3 linked regions of the Homo sapiens genome follow. The protein of the gene in region 2 purifies or fractionates together with the protein of the main gene of each other region. This does not show direct contact. Each region holds a gene or a part of one and is shown on either strand. Other genes may lie near its edges.

Region 1 (5,254 bases), on a different chromosome or scaffold from region 2:
ACTTTCCACTATCATATACTTTTTCCTTTCTCATTTATTCTCTTTTACTTTTATCTATCCTATGATTATTTTTAGACACTATTATATTTTAGCAACTGCAGGCACATATAACATATGTCAGCTTTTGTCCACTAACTCCATGAGACAAATAAAATGATGATAAGGCCAAAGGTTTCCTTCTCATCCCAACTCTACATCAAAAGAAAAAATGATCTATTCTGATTTTAATAGAGGGTTCTAATTTTACAGTGCTCTCTCGTTTCCTGTAGCACGTGGGGTTTTTCACAGGATATTTGCTTTCTATCACAGCAACTGCTAGAAAATTAGCTTTGCGGCCGGGCACAGTGGCTCAGGCCTGCAATCCCAGCACTTTGGGCGGCTGAGGTGGGTGCATCAGTTGAAGTCAGGAGTTCAAGACTAGCCTGGCTAATATGGTGAAACCTCATCTCTACTAGAAATACAAAAATTAGCTGGGTGTGGTGGCATGTGTCTGTAGTCCCAGCTACTCATAAAATTATAAATATACACTGACTATACACAGCCATCCATGTGCAAGGTTGCAGTACCTGCTTACTCTCTCTTAGAAGATGACAGTGTTTTTCTTTTTCTTTGGAGACGGGGTCTCACTCTGTCATCCAGGCTGGAGTGAAGTGGCACAATCGCAGCTCATTACAGCCTTGACCTCCTGGGCTCCATCAATCATCCCACCTCAGCTCCCCAAGTAGCCAGGACTACAGGCATGTGCCACCATGCCCAGCTAATTTTCGTGGGTTTTTTTTTTTTTGTAGGGACAGGATCTTAGTAATGTTGCCCAGGCTGGTCTCGAACCCCTGGGCTCAAGCAATCCTCGTGCCCCAGCCTCCCAAAGTGCTGGGATTATAGGTGTGAGCACCTTGCCCGGCCCTATTAGTGCGTTTTCAATTCACTCACCTGATTCAACTTCCAGTGGAACTCTGCAGGTCTGTATTTCTTCTCCTCAGAAGGATCCTGACGGAAGAGGAAGATCAGCCGGCACCCGTGGACATAGAGGGAGTAGTGGTGCCGATTCATATCTGCAAAGGCAGTTTCTATGGGTAAATTGCCAACTAAAGATCCAAAGGAGAAATTAAAGCTGTTTCTTGAATGGATTTTGAAGACACAATTTCATCTGCATAAATGAACTCTTCGGCTAAGCCAAGGCAGGGCTTAGAAACAAATACACTTGGGCTTTCCTGAGAGGCGGAGCCTGTGATCACCGTGGACCCCACTGAGCAACAACAGCTAATACCCAAATGCCCAGGCCGTGGCTCTAGGGAACCAAGTGCCCCAGGCACACAGCATGGCACATGGCCTACGAGCACCAGGCTGGCAGGGGACCCTGGGAAAGGAGAGGGAGCCTGCCGCTGGCACCCACCCTACTGGACACTGGGGCCTGGCATCGCTTGCAGAGCTATTACCCTACCTGTTTTATCAGAACTGCAAAGAATTGTCTCCTTCTTCCTGCCGAATGGCCCATGTCTCATCCACACCGAGATGGTGAACGGCTCTTTGGGGCTGACCGACACGACGCCATCCGGGATCCTCACTGCCTGGGTGCCGTTGAACTCAAACACCTGGTCGCTGTCGTGGCCATTGTCGGTGGGCAGGCCCATGGTCCAGTTGAGGGATCCACTCGGGGATGGCAGCAGCTCGGCAGTGCCCGCGGCCGCACCTGAAGCCACAGTGCTCGGTGAAACTCATGTGAGGAGCCAGAGGTCCCGCGCACCTCAAGCCCCCAGGCACGTGCTTGTCTTACACTTAGGCAATCTGCTGGCTCCAGTTTACTTTTTTTTTTTCTTTCGAGACAGAGTCTTGCTTTGTCCCCAGGCTGGAGTACAGTGGCGCGATCTCGGTTCATTGCAACCTCCACCTCCCGGGTTCAAGCTGTTCTCCTGCCTCAGCCTCCCGAGTAGCTGGGATTACAGGCGCGCCCCATTAAAACTGGCTAATTTTTGCATTTTCAGGAGAGCCGGAGTTTCACCATGTTGGCCAGGCTGGCCTGGAACTCCTGACCTCGTGATCCGCCTGACTCGGCCTCCAAAAGTGCTGGGATTACAGGCGTGAGCCACCACGCTTGGCCCTTTCAGTTTACTTCTCTTCAAAAATCAGGGTTTTAAATTACAAAAATAAAAATAACAACCATGGATTTGTTTAAGGAAGGGAAAGGGCCAGGCGTGAACCCGGGAAGCGGAGCTTGCAGTGAGCCGAGATCGCACCCCTGCACTCCAGCCTGGGCAACAGAGCGAGACTCCGTCTCAAAAAAAAAAAAAAAAAACAAAAAGGAAGGGAAAGGAAGCATTTCTTGTAATCTGATTCAAATTATACCATTTTAGTATAAACACCCAGTCCTCCTTTGGTAAATATACACAAAAATGATGCGTTTTCTTAGAAAAATGGAGTCCTGGCAGGGCTTGGTGGCTCACACCTGTAATCCCAGCACTTTGGGAGGCCAAGGCACACAGATTGCTTGAGCCCAGGAGTTGGAGACCAGCCTGGACAACATGGCAAAACCCTGTCAATACAAAAAACACAAAAATTAGCCAGGTGTGGTGGTGCATCCCTGTAGTCCCAGCTACTTGGGAGGCTGAGATGGGAGGATCACTTGAGCCCAGGAGGTTGAGGCTGCAGTGAGCTGTGACTGTGCCACTATACTCCAGCCTGGGCGAGTGCGACCCTGTCTCAAAAATATATAAACAAATACAATAAAAGTGGAGTCCTGCTATGTATGTGCATAATACATATATATTCCTAGCAATATTCTTCTATCATGTAATTTAAACTATCTGAATAGTTGTTTTTTTTTTTTTTTTTTTTTTGAGACAGGGTCTCCTCTCTCGCCCAGGCTGCAGTGCAGTGGTGCAGCGTTGGTTTACCGCAGCCTTGACCTCCTGAGCTCAAGCAATCCTCCCACCTCAGCCTCCCAAGTAGCTGGGACCACAGGTGTGTGCCACCATGCCCGGCTAATTTTTGTGTTTTTGTAGAGACGGGGTTTCGCCATGTTGTCCAAGCTAGTCTCCAACTACTGGGCTCAAGCGATCCATCTGCCTCAGACTCCCAAAGTGCTGGGATTATAGGTGTGAGCCACCGCGCTCGGCCTGAATAGCATTTCATTGTACAGATACAGCATCACCTACTGACCAGCCTCCCAGGTGGGCACAGAGGCTGTCCCTAACCTTTTCCTATTATAAACCTCACCTGCATGCACAGCTTTATGTGTCTCCATGATTATTCCCTTAAAATAAATTCCTAGAAATGAAATTACTAAGTCAAAAAACATAAAAAATGTTTTCCAACCATTCTTATGTATTGCCATGTTCAAATTAAAAAAATTTTTTTTTGTCCACAGGAAAAGATTTTGCAAGCTCCTTCTTGACTAAGCTATTACTCGGAGCAGCAGGCCTTGGCTGGACCAGCCTGGCCTCTTGAGTAACAGAAGACCTTGGTCCAAATCTTAGCTCCTGAAGCTAGACGTGGTGGCTTGCGCCTGTAATCCCAGAACTTTGAGAGGCTGAGGCAGGCAGATCAACTGAGGTCAAGAGTTCAAACCAGCCTGGCCAATATGGTGAAACTCTGTCTCTACAAAAATACAAAAATGAGCCAGGCATGATGGCAGATGCCTGTAATCTCAGCTACTTGGGAGGCTGAGGTGGGAGAATCACTTAAACACAGGAAGTGGAGGCTGCAGTGAGCCAAGATAGCACGATTGCATTCCAGCCTGGGCGACAGTGAGACTCTGTCTCAAAAGAAAAAAAAAAACCACACACACACACTAGAACCTCAGCTCCTGAATATGTGGGCTTGGGCAAGCTACTTAACCTGCTTTAGTCTCAATTGTTTAATTCCTCTGTAACAAGGTCAATACCCACCTACTTCGTAGACTTGTTGGGAACATTAAGCTAAAACACACATAGAAGTACCTGGAGTAAGGCCAGGCGCAGTGGCTCATGCATATAATCCCAGCACTTTGGGAGGCCGAGGTGGGTGGATCACTTGAGGTCAGGAGTTGGAGACGAGCCTCGCCAACATGGTGAAATCCCATCTCTACTAAACATACAAAAAGTAGCCAGGCATCATGGCACATGCCTGTAATCCCAGCTACTTGGGAGGCCGAGGCAGGAGAATCGCTTGAACCCAGGAGGCAGACGTTGCAGTGAGTGAGATTGCGCCACTGCACTCCAGCCTGGGCGACAGAGGGAGACTGTCTCAAAAAAAAAAAAAAAAAAAAAAAAAAAGTACCTGGTGCATAGTAAGCACTCAAATTATTTCTATTCTTCCTAACTTTATTCTGCTGAAAAAAAATTCACTTAATACCATGAAATGAGAGACGGAATAAATTTTATATATTATACTTACATGCATGGTTTAAAACAGAAAATGTGCCAGACCTCCTTACTTAAATATATTTAGGTGACAATTATGAATATTTGGATTCAGAGTTGCCAAACACCCCCATATGCTCATCATTGGACTGTGGCAGCATAATGTCTAGTTTTCTACTTTGGTTTATTTACCACATGATAATTTTCTTCTTATTTATTGTTTTTTTTCTAAGACAAAGTCTAGCTTTGTCACCTAGGCTGGAGAGTAGTGGCACACTCTTGGCTCACTGCAGCCTCCTGGGTTCAAGCAATTCTCCTGCCTCAGCCTCCCAAGTAGCTGGGAGTATAGGCACCTCGCACCACGCCTGGCTAATTTTTTATTTTTAGTAGAGCGGGGGTTTCATCATGTTGATCAGGCTGGTCTTAGACCCCTGACCTCAAGTGATCTGGATAATTTTCAATTATAAACCAGTGGCCGGGCGCGGTGGCTCATGCCTGCAATCAGCACTTTGGGAGGCCGAGGTGGGCGGATCACGAGGTCAGGAGATCGAGACCATCCTGGCTAACACGGTGAAACCCCGTTTCTACTAAAAATACAAAAAAATTAGCCGGGCATGGTGGCAGGTGCCTGTAGTCCCAGCTACTCGGGAGGCTGAGGCGGGAGAATGGTGTGAACCCAGGAGGCGGAGCTTGCAGTGAGCCGAGATGGCGCCACTGCACTCCAGCCTGGGTGACAGAGTGAGACTCTGTCTAAAAAAAAAAAAAAGAAAACCAGTAACCTAAATCTCATGGTTGTTATCAGGCTAGTGAAAAGACTCATCAGTTTAAGAAAATGCTCCCTGAAAAGCTGTTTCACAAAAGCTTTTTGAAACACAAAAGACCCTTCCAATTTATGAAGACGCTGCTTCATTTAGTGG
Region 2 (5,254 bases):
CCAAAGTGCTGGGATTACAGGCGTGAGCCACTGCACCCGGCCAGTGGCTCAGAAGTTTCTAAAGGACCCACAGAGCCCTAAAGTGACTCTGACGACAGGAAGAGGGAGGTGTTCATTGGTGGCAAGGGCTTTGTAGTTTTCAAAGCTATTTTTCAAACCTATCCAGCCCCATGAGCCTTGTTCAAGCAAATACATTTGCTTCTATAGCACTAGGGGGTGGACTCACTCAGGCTTCACTTCTTGATAGCAACTCTTCTAGAGATTTACAGAACTTTCTCTTGTTCTGTCCCCATCTTTGAGACCACAAACTTCCCATTTGGGAAGTGCTTTCTTAGAATCCTGTATCTGAATGCTGTGACAGGCAGAACCCGCAACAGCTTGCCTTGCTTGCCCTGCCTTTAAAAAAAAAAATTAATTACTCTAAAATATTCCATTTTTTTCTACTTACTCTAGTTCATAAAGTCTAAGAGTTTTTCATTTTTTATATCTAAAATGAAGATATACCTTATAATCAATGGCATCTTAGATTTGAAAAAATGTGGCATCACCTTCTAGCATAATAACATGCTTCTTTATCATGTTTATTACTTATTGTCTGTTGCTTCCCATTAGAATGCAAGACCATCAAGGCAAGGATGTTAATTTTCTTCAATGAGGTATCTCCTGTGTCTGGAATGATATAAGGCTCATCCCAGATGATGAATGAACAGTGAATCTGTGGAGCTTCAGCATCCTCACCTAAGATGGGAATAGCTATGCCCATCTCCCGAGATTATTGTGGAGATCAGATGTTATGCGTACAAAGCACAGGGCATGATACCTGATACACATCTTGCTCTATAAAGACTGGTAGAGGAGTGTGTTGTTATTGTTATCAATATCATTATCATTTTTATCCATAAAATGAAGATTATAAAACCTAAGTTGCTGTGAATATTGAGACAAAGTATGAAAAGTACCTGGCAACTGGAGATGTTTAATAAACTGGAATTTATTTTCTCTTTTCTGCTGGGATTAATGCCTGCAAGAGCAGGATGCCCCAGAGCAAGACACTGTCCAAAGCAAGGCCCCCTGGGCAATCTCCTTTTCATTGACACTCCTATCTCTAACCCTGGAGCCTGCTACAGAGAATTAAGGTATCTGCTCAATCCTTCTTGCCATAATTGATATCCATGGCCTTGACCCAGTTCCCCCTGAGAACTCTTCCCTTCTAGGCCTGTCTGCTCACAACTCACAGTATCTGCTGGAATCCTCCCATTCATCTAGTTCCTGGGCTCGACTCCTTCTGTTCAGCCCTCATTGCAACCTAAGACCCACCAGCAGAGGTATCCATGATGCCAACAGGAAAAGCCAAGTCTGCTAAGCCATCTGCATGGTGCCCAGCTTGACACTCTGACATGTGAAATTCTTCCTGTAGAACATTCCACTGCCTTATCCCTCCCAAACATCTGAAATCCTAGCTTTGGGTGGGTTTCATCATGGGGTAGGATGGAAAGGGCTTTGAGCTGGGATTCTAATCTTGGCTTTTCCCACAAACAGTTGTATAGTCTAGGGGAAGATCATTTAACATCAGTTTCCTTAGATGTCTAGGAAGTGCCTGGTATCCTCACCAGAGTGTATCTTGATACACATAATCAAACCCCAACAACAACTGGGAAGGCTTAAAAATTATTCCACAATGTGTGAGTATTCTACCAATGATCTCCACCCAAGGAAACTGGGAGAAGGGTGTTGTTCCCTGATGTTCCCAGGGTGGGGATTTGTAGGGATCAAGTGTGGTTAGAGGTAAAGAGCTCAAGCATTTCATATTCCTTTGGATGTCTCTGGCCAAGCCCCTTTAAAGATGGGTAAGAGGCAGAAATGAAGAAGTTAGAAGCCATAGAGTTTGGAGTATTTTGGAGTTAGGCTGGGCTCTGAATTTTTAACTTGTAGTCTAGAAACTATTTGAAATCCAAGCATGTGGATATTCATGATGGGACAACATTTCTTTTTTCAGAAAGTTAGAGTTGAGACTTCATCAAAATCAACCTCTGTCTCAAGGGCTTTCTAGACCATCTGGGAAGCTGAGAGGCACAGATCTGCCTCTGTATCCCCATTTCCTCTAGGGTTTCAAAGGCAGGCCCAACAGCCAGGGTTGGGGGCCCAGCAGCCAGGGGTTGGGGGCCCAGCAGCCAGGGGTTGGGGGCCCAGCAAGTCTCTCCCCATTGCAGCCTATATGGGAGCTGAGTAGGAAAGTAGCCATGGTGGGCGCCATGTTTCCCAGGCCTCACTCATGACTTTACCCACTGGCTTCCCCAGAAAGGGTTATGATAAATTCTCAGGGAACCCCAACCAGACCTTCATTTCAGCTTATCTTCTCCTGGGACCTTCATCTAACTTGCGAGATTGACATTTCTAAGTTTCAGCCTGCTATTTCGTTTCTGAAAATATGTTGTTAGAAATATGGACAAAGGTATTAATAGTAAAACTATTATATAAAGAAGAGCAAAGGAATGATTCATCCAAAGTTAATCAGAAGTCAGGATGGTGATTACCTCTGTGATGGGGGAGATATGTAATTGGGGCTGAGTGAAATACAGTCAGGTTCTAAGGTTTAGGTAATGTGTAAAAAAAAAAAAAGTGGCCAGGTGCAGTGGCTCATGCCTGTAATCCCAACACTTTGGGAGGCCAAGGTGGGAGAATCACTTGAGGCCAGGAGGTTGAGACCAGCCCTGGCAACATAGCAAGGCAGATGGTGCACACCTGTGGTCCCAGCTACTCAAGAGGCTGAAGTGGGAGGACTGCCTGAGCCTGGGAGGTCAAGCGAGGCTGCACTGAGCCATGATGACACCACTGTACTCCAGCCTAGGTGACAGAGCGAGAACCTGTCTCAAAACAAAACAAACAAAAAAAAGCCAGAGGGAGGGGGGAGGATTGCCTGTACAATGAGATTTGAAAGTCTTTTTTTTTTTTTGAGATGGGGTCTCACTCTGTCACCCAGGCTGGAGTGCAATGGCATGATCCTGCTACCTCCACCTCCCAGGCTTAAGCGGTCCTCCCACCTCAGCCTCCCGAGTAGTTAGGATTACAGGCGTGTGCCACCACATCCAGCCAATTTTTGTATTTTTTGTAGAGACAGGGTTTCGCCATGTAACTCAGGCTGGTTTCAAACTCCTGAGCTCAGGTGATCCACCCACCTCGGCCTCCCCAAGTGCTGGTATTCCAGGTGTCAGCCACCATGCCCGGCCCAAACATTCTTTAAAGTCCACATACACTGAACTCTCAAGGTTCTTCCAGATCAGCCATCAAAAGGTTTCTTCTCCAGAAGGTTACTGCTTAATGAAGGTTTGGGGGTTCAGTTTCCCTGGCCTGATAGTGTCAATGTAGGGCACAGCGGGAATTGGTAGAAAATTCCCTGAATGCCCTGGATCAGGGGTAACTAGGATGCCAGGCAAAGTTGGGGAACAGGACAGTGGGACTACAAGGGAACTGGACACCACATCCCACCACTGCTCAGCTCTGGCTCTGCCTCATGCTGCGGGAGGGACTCACCTAACGGCCTTAACTCGGTGCCACCGACCATCGTTGAAGGAGCCATTCACCATGATGGATGCCACACCACTGCCCAGGTTATAGCTAAGGCATTGGAGAAGAAGAAGACAGAGAACAGAATAAAACACTGAGGCATAAGCAGACACGGTTCACAGACGATTCTCAGGGCAAAAGTTCTTTGCAACTCAGAGTGCAGTTTCCTTAACAAAAAACAAGAGTGTTATAAAAGTTGTTGGGTTTCTAGGCTGGTTCATGAAATTAAAAATTATTAAACTTTTAAATTATGGTAAAATATATGTAACATAACCATGGCCATCGTAACCATTTTTAAGCATACAGTGCCGCAGCATTAAGTACATATTCATATTGTTGGGCTGGCAATTTCCAAAACTCATCTTACAAAACAAAAGCATTGCATTAAATAATAACCCCTCATTCTTCCCTCCCCCCAGCCCCTGACAACCAGCCTTCTACCTTCTGACTCTGTGGATTTGATTCTTCTACATACCTCATATGAGTGGCATCATAGAGTATTTGTCTTTTTTGTGACTGTGACTGGCTTACTTCACTTAGCATAATGTTATCAAGATTGTTTTTTAATGCCCTCATGTAAGGCAACATCAGTACTAAAGTATCAGGAATAACAAGAAGGGCTTTATCATGTGTAATGTTTTATACTATGTTACGATGATGGTCTGCCCCCTCCCTCCACCCGCCAAATTCATGTCTACCCAGAGCCTCAGAATGTTACTTATTTGAAAATAGGGTCTTTGCAGATTCATTAGTTAAAATGAAGTCATACTGGATTAGGGCAGCCATGGATCCAATATAACTGGTATCTTTATGAGAAGAGATTTGGACATGGAGCCAGAGACACACAGAGACAGGGAAAGCCATGGGAAACTGGAGGCAGGGACTGGAATGGGGCATCTCCAAGCCAAGGAATGCCAAGGGCTGCCAGCCACCACCAGAACCTGGGGGACAGGCATGGAGCCGATTCTCCCTGAGACCCTCCAGAAGAAGCCAACCCTTGCACTGCATGGTGGATTTCTAGCCTTCAGAACTGTGAGAGAGCCCACTTCTATTGTTTTAAGCCACCTAATTTGTGGTCATGTATTATCAGAGCCCTAAGAAATGAATGCATCTGTTTTCACTTTTTAAAAAAAAATGAACATTGCAGAGTAGGGTGAGCCCCAGAGAGATTAAGGGAATTTGCCTAAAATCACAAACCTAATGTAGAACTTGAACTTGGTGTATCCTCTGCCCTTATCCATTTAACTCTGCTATCAGGTTTCTCTAGTGGCTTCCTATTTTCTATTTCAGTTCCCAGATACCCCGATACCATAAGGGTTTCAGAAAACATGAACATGTTGTTACCAGAGAGAAATATCCCCCTTAATCCAGTGTTCATTCAATTATTCTAATTAAATTTAATTCGACAAATATTTAGTGAGTGACTACTCTAGCCCGGGCACTGGGCCAACTGCCCAGACTTTCCCTGGATAATACAATAAAGCCTAGGCCATCAAGCTTTTGAAGGGAAGTATGTTCCACCTGGGATGACTCCCTCCTCATTTTGTAAGAGGACATATCTCTCCTTCACCTCATTGCCCAAGAGAGAGGGATGTCGAGAGAAAATCTGGATGAGTTAACAAGCACTGGCATGTACTCATTCTGAGAAAACAGCAAGAATAGAAAGTGCTTGGCTTTCTCCAGAGAAAGC
Region 3 (5,254 bases), on a different chromosome or scaffold from region 2:
CTGCGCCTGGCCAATTTTTGTATTTTTTTTTTTTTTTTTTTTGAGACAGAGTCTCGCTCTGTCGCCCAGGCTGGAGTGCAGTGGCACGATCTTGGCTCACTGCAAGCTCTGCCTCCCAGATTCACGCCATTCTCCTGCCTCAGCCTCCCAAGTAGCTGGGACTACAGGCGCCCACCACCACACCCGGCTAAATTTTTGTATTTTTAGTAGAGACAGGGTTTCATCGTGTTAGCCAGGATGGTCTCGATCTCTTGACCTCGTGATCCACCCACCTCAGCCTCCCAAACTGCTGGGATTACAGGCGTGAGTCACCACGCCCGGCCCAATTTTTGTATTTTTAGTAGAGATGGCGTTTCACCATGTTGGCCAGGCTGGTCTTGAACTCCTGACCTCAGGTGATCCACCCACCTCGGCCTCCCAAAGTGCTGGAATTACAGGCGTGAGCCACTGTGCCTTGCCAATGTAAAGCATTTAGTGCAATGCCTGGCACACACGTTAGGAAGCAGCAAATGTTGATTATCCTCTTCCTCCCCAGCCTGTTCCACACAAGCAGTCTCCCCAGCCAGGGAGGAGTCCAAGGCCACTCCCACCCTGCCATGTCAGACCTCAAATCGAGCCCAGTCCCAAGAGGTATTGTAGTGGGTAGGTCGCTGCAGGTGCCCAAACTGGATCTCATAGGTGGCCTGGGAACTCCGCACGCGAGCAGGGAACTCCACCTTCAGGAACTTGTGGGCCTCATGCCAGTGTACCTGGGAGTGGGAAGGAGGGTGGGAGTCAGGGAAGGAAGAGACACACCAAGGCCTGGGGCTGGCCCCTCCTTACCAAGCACACTTGGGGAAAACAGCCACCCCCTACCCCCCGACTACCTCGGTGTGGAAGCGGACATAGGGGCAGCCAACGTCCAGCACAACCTCCTGGCTAAGCCGACTGTTGGGGCTGATCTGTAGCAAGAACCAGGCGCTGCCCCGCAGGCCGCCCTCGGTGCCCACTGCCAGGGTCCCTGCCTGGCCCAGCACAGGCTTCCTATGGGACAGGGGTGGACATACTGATCCAGAGCAGCCTGTGTTCCCACCACCTCCACCATCCCCACATGCTGCCCAGCCTATACCGTGTCTCCAGGTGGTAGTCCATGACGTCCCATGCATCCCAGTACAAGGGGACATCATCAAATAGCACAAACTGGTTCCCCACGGCGCCCTCAGCAATGGCCTCCCTGGAAGGACATGGGATTGGTGCTGTACAACCAACTGACCTCGCTGTCTCCAGCTGCTCTTGGTGGGGTAGGGTGGAGTGAGTAGACCCAGTGGACAGGGGACTACTGCCCAGCCTGCCCTGCTCCATGTGTGGGTTCCAGCCCAGAGCCACTGGTGGGCTGCTGTGGGCAGTGTTGTGGCAAGGGGAGAGAGGAAATGGCCTGGGGTCTACTTGCCAGGCACTGGGAAAGGGCAATGAGGATTTGGCACCTGCCAGAGGCCACCAGGACCAAGGACGTCAGGCGACCAGTTGGGTCCAGCTTCACTCGGATGATGCCATTGTCCAGAGTCACGGAGCCATCAGTCTTTGTGGGAGGAGGCCTTGAGGCTGAGTCTGTAGGGGCTTCCCACACCAAAAGTCTTCCCACCCCAACCCCAGCCCCGCCTCACCACTTGCTCCAGACAGGGGAGCTCAGGACCCTCAGTTGTAAGAAAGTATCCCAGCACAGTTCCTGCCCCCCAGGGCATGCAGGACTCACCTCTTGCACTACGAACACAGGCTGCTGGGGCAGCAGGGGCTGCAGTGAGGTGGGGGGAGGAACAGGAGCATAGCCCATGCTGGGCACTGTCACCAGGGCTGGGGGTGAGGCCTGGGCATCAGTGCAGCCTTCCTGACCTTTCAGGAAGCTTGCGCAGGTGGGGATGGGTTGGTGGAAGATGTGCTACTACTCTCCAGTCAGGGGCACCCAGATCCCTCGGGGTATCCCAGGCCTGATCTGTCTGGCCTCCATCCTTCCTGCTGCAGTAGCAACCCTTCCCCTCAGCTCGTACCTAGGCTGTGGGCCCCGCCCGGTTTGGGCAGGGCCATCACTTCGATCCGCTTCCAGGGCAGTGTGTTGACGATGAGGAGGCCCTCAGGACCTGGCTCCCCAGCACACAGGGCTGCGGCTGCAGCGCTGAGCAGTGTATTGCCATGGGAACGGATGTCTGAGGAAAGACTGGCTGGTCATAGGTGGGCAACAGGTCTGGAATGTGCCCATGGGTATCCCACAGGGGACACTCTGGGCTCAGCCCTGGGGTTGGAGAGAGCAGGCAGGACTATTGTGAGCCTAACCTTCATAATGGCACATGGCTTCCTCTGCCACCATCTGGATGCAGCTTCCAGTCACCACATCATGGAACTGGTTCAGAAGAAGGAGCCTGCAGGGGCCAAGGGCAGGGATGGGAAGGCTGGGAGGGGCAGGCACAGAGGTAACTGCAGTGAGCAGTCAGGTGGATGGCAGGGACAGAACTGGGCTGACCTCCAGAGGTGCTGCAGCTGGGCTGCTGGGTATAGGAACTGGGCACTGCGGGCCAGGGCCAGGCTACTGAGCAGCTCCACGTCGTGCAGGATCCGCTCACATTCCCGGTTCCCCTTCTTGATCTGAGCCCAGGATGGGAAGATTAGTCTGGAGCCTGCTTAGCTGTCCCAGGACACCTTCCAAAGCCCTCCCTTGCTCAGAATCCCTGAGGACTCACCAAGGGCCTCGTGGAGAAGGCCTCTGGCGGGTGACCTGCCTTAAATGCCTTCCCTCTTCTCCCCGCAGCCCAAACCCTTCTTTCTTCAGGGGTTTCTGCCTCCTTCAAGCTTTCTTGACCAACCCAGGTCTTGAACTTCTCTCCTCCAAACTTCTCTTCCCCTAGATCTGGCCTGGGCTCTGTCCCCTGCTGCCTTCTCTGACCCTCTGCAGATCAAGGGCACACCCTCCCTGCACAGCCCTGCAACCTCCCCCTGACCTGGGCATGGGTGGTGTATGTGCCATTGTGCAGCTCCAAGAAGAGCTCCCCAACCCACGTGCACAGCTGCTCTGAGTCACTCTCCAGTGCTGAGAAGAGCTGTCTTGGAGAAGATAGCTGCACCCTGAGGAGACCACAAGCCTAGGTCTCCCAGCCTTGGAGACCACATGGCTCACCCTTCTTCCACACCAAAGCAAAGGATCCAGCTCCTACAGAGAGGAGCCACTCCAGAAAGCTCCCCGTTCACAGATGGCCAGCCCTGGACGCCCTAGGAGAGCCTCTCTCTCTGATGGGCTGGAGCCCTTACCAGCTTCAGCTTCTCCCCCACCCACCCCCAGGGTGGAAGTTTGGAGGAACCCGTGGTCTAGGATTGGGACAGGACAAGGTCCAGAGGAGGGGTTGGGCCCAATGTCTGAGGGAAGGCAGGGCTCATGGCAAGGGCCCAGGGTGGGGCTAAAGGAGAGCCAAGGCCTGGCCTGACCTGGGCAGCCCATCCGTATTGCTCAGGCGCTTCAGGCGGTCCAGCATGGTCTGGGTGGGGCCACCACCCCCATCCCCAAAGCCAAAGAGGAAGGCACTGTGGTTGGCCCGCCCCTTGTCCCGGTTGTTGGCCACGGTCTTCAGCACCTAGACAGGTGAGGGCAGGCCAGCATGGATCAGCCTGGAACAAGCCAGCCCTCTCCAGCCTGCCCCTACCCCACCACCCTAGGTGACCCCTCACCTCCTCCACGCTGCCCTGCATCCCATAGGAGTCGCCAGGTGGGAAGTGGACCAGTACACGGGAGCCATCCAGGCCCTCCCAGAAAAATGTATGGTGCTACCAGCAGGGAAACAGAAGCAGGGCAGAGAGGCCAGAGTCAGGGCTGAGGCAGAGCCAGGCCTTCCAGACTTGGTCCTGCCCCTGCCTGCTATGTGACCCTGGCAGAGGCAGAGTGAGGGTTTGGTGGTCTGTCTAGGACCCCACAATAAGGGGGAGAGGCAAATGGGCCAGGCGGGACTGAGGCCCACTCTGACCCTGACCCCCCGGGGGCCTGCTTACTGGGAAGGAGTTCACCAAATTCCAGCTCAATTTCTGGGTGAGAAAGCGCCTGATGCCACAGCCGTGCATGATCTGGGGGAGCTGTGCTGAGTAGCCAAAGGTGTCCGGCAGCCAGAACTGTGGAGAAAGAGGATCCTGGAGTGCAGGAACCAGAGCTCCAGGCGGACTCACCCCAGCCTCAGCCCCTCAGCACTCCAAGTCGAGCGCCAGCCCCACTCGCCCACAGCCTGGTGTAGCAGCTCTCAGCCTACCTCAGAGCACATCTTCCCAAACTCCTGCAGAAAGAAGTTCTGGCCCTGCAAAAACTGCCTCACCATGGCCTCTCCACTGGGCAGGTTCCCATCCTGGCAGTGAAGGAAGTGGGAGGCAGCCCAGGTCAGCGCTGGACGGGGAGCAGGCAGGCGCTCAGGCCAACCCAATCCCTGCAGGAGAAGCCAGGGCTGCTCAAACATGGGAGTTACAGCCAGAACTCAGGAAGGGCCCCTGTCCTTCAGGCCTGACTGTCCATCTGCCTGAGGGGGTGCCCAGGACTAGGCCATGCAACTTGTCACAGCGCTGGAGGCTCTCCTCCCCCTTGAAGTCCCAGGCCTTGAGATCCCAGGGACTAATGAGCCAGCCCTGCCACACAGCGGGGATGAGTGGCCCGTGGAAACTCACCAGCAAAGCCGGGAGGGCGGGGCTACCTGAGGGAAGGCTGTTGTCATACAGTTCAAGGCTGAGGAGTGCCCAGTGCACTTACCATCTCCACCCAGGTGCCCCCCACAGGCACAAACTGCCCACGGCACGCAAACTCCTGGATGCGGGAGTACAGGCCAGGGTAGCGGCTCTTCACCCATTCCAGCTGCTGCGCCTGTGGGCAGGTTGAAGGGAGCTGGGACCAGAGTGACAAGGGCCCCACCCAGGACTGAGCATATGGGACTCAGTGTGTGGCTGAGGGTGAGGAGCAGCCCTGACCCCAGGCCTGGGAAGCCTTCAGGGCCTGTGGAGCTCCAGGGAGGGCCACGTGCTTCCCTCCTCCCTCACAGCTGTCCCTCTGACCTGGGAGCAGGCAAAGATGAACTCAGGGTTCCGCTCCATGAGCTGCAGGGCGGTCACCCAGCTCCGGGCACATTTCCTCACAGTCTCTTTGAAGGGCCAAAGCCAGGCTATACGGGGAGTGAGGTGGAGGACAGAGGGAGCAGCAAGGCTGACCAGGCCTGGGCTGGGACTCCAGAGGGTCACCTAGCCCCCCTCCCATCCCAGGCCC

The links. Proteins that work in one complex are often made in the same cells at the same time.
Region 1: the proteins of EGFLAM (region 2) and CLSTN1 purify together in Homo sapiens (affinity purification with mass spectrometry; one large-scale study listed by BioGRID and IntAct). This does not show direct contact.
Region 3: the proteins of EGFLAM (region 2) and MAN2C1 purify together in Homo sapiens (affinity purification with mass spectrometry; one large-scale study listed by BioGRID and IntAct). This does not show direct contact.

Annotation. Positions count from the first base shown.
Region 1 is NC_000001.11:9,742,954-9,748,207, forward strand, and holds part of CLSTN1 (calsyntenin-1 isoform 1 precursor), read right to left. Parts: intron 1,691-5,254; coding exon 1,442-1,690; intron 1,053-1,441; coding exon 931-1,052; intron 1-930. UniProt on the Homo sapiens protein: Postsynaptic adhesion molecule that binds to presynaptic neurexins to mediate both excitatory and inhibitory synapse formation.
Region 2 is NC_000005.10:38,456,672-38,461,925, reverse strand, and holds part of EGFLAM (pikachurin isoform 1 precursor), read right to left. Parts: intron 3,616-5,254; coding exon 3,532-3,615; intron 1,002-3,531; exon of another isoform or gene 613-1,001; intron 1-612. UniProt on the Homo sapiens protein: Involved in both the retinal photoreceptor ribbon synapse formation and physiological functions of visual perception.
Region 3 is NC_000015.10:75,357,596-75,362,849, forward strand, and holds part of MAN2C1 (alpha-mannosidase 2C1), read right to left. Parts: intron 5,154-5,254; coding exon 5,047-5,153; intron 4,859-5,046; coding exon 4,748-4,858; intron 4,353-4,747; coding exon 4,260-4,352; intron 4,126-4,259; coding exon 4,009-4,125; intron 3,787-4,008; coding exon 3,691-3,786; intron 3,597-3,690; coding exon 3,451-3,596; intron 3,094-3,450; coding exon 2,970-3,093; intron 2,617-2,969; coding exon 2,495-2,616; intron 2,394-2,494; coding exon 2,308-2,393; intron 2,181-2,307; coding exon 2,025-2,180; intron 1,844-2,024; coding exon of another isoform or gene 1,831-1,843; coding exon 1,733-1,830; intron 1,597-1,732; coding exon of another isoform or gene 1,559-1,596; coding exon 1,464-1,558; intron 1,214-1,463; coding exon 1,109-1,213; intron 1,024-1,108; coding exon 867-1,023; intron 750-866; coding exon 606-749; intron 1-605. UniProt on the Homo sapiens protein: Cleaves alpha 1,2-, alpha 1,3-, and alpha 1,6-linked mannose residues on cytoplasmic free oligosaccharides generated by N-glycoprotein degradation pathways.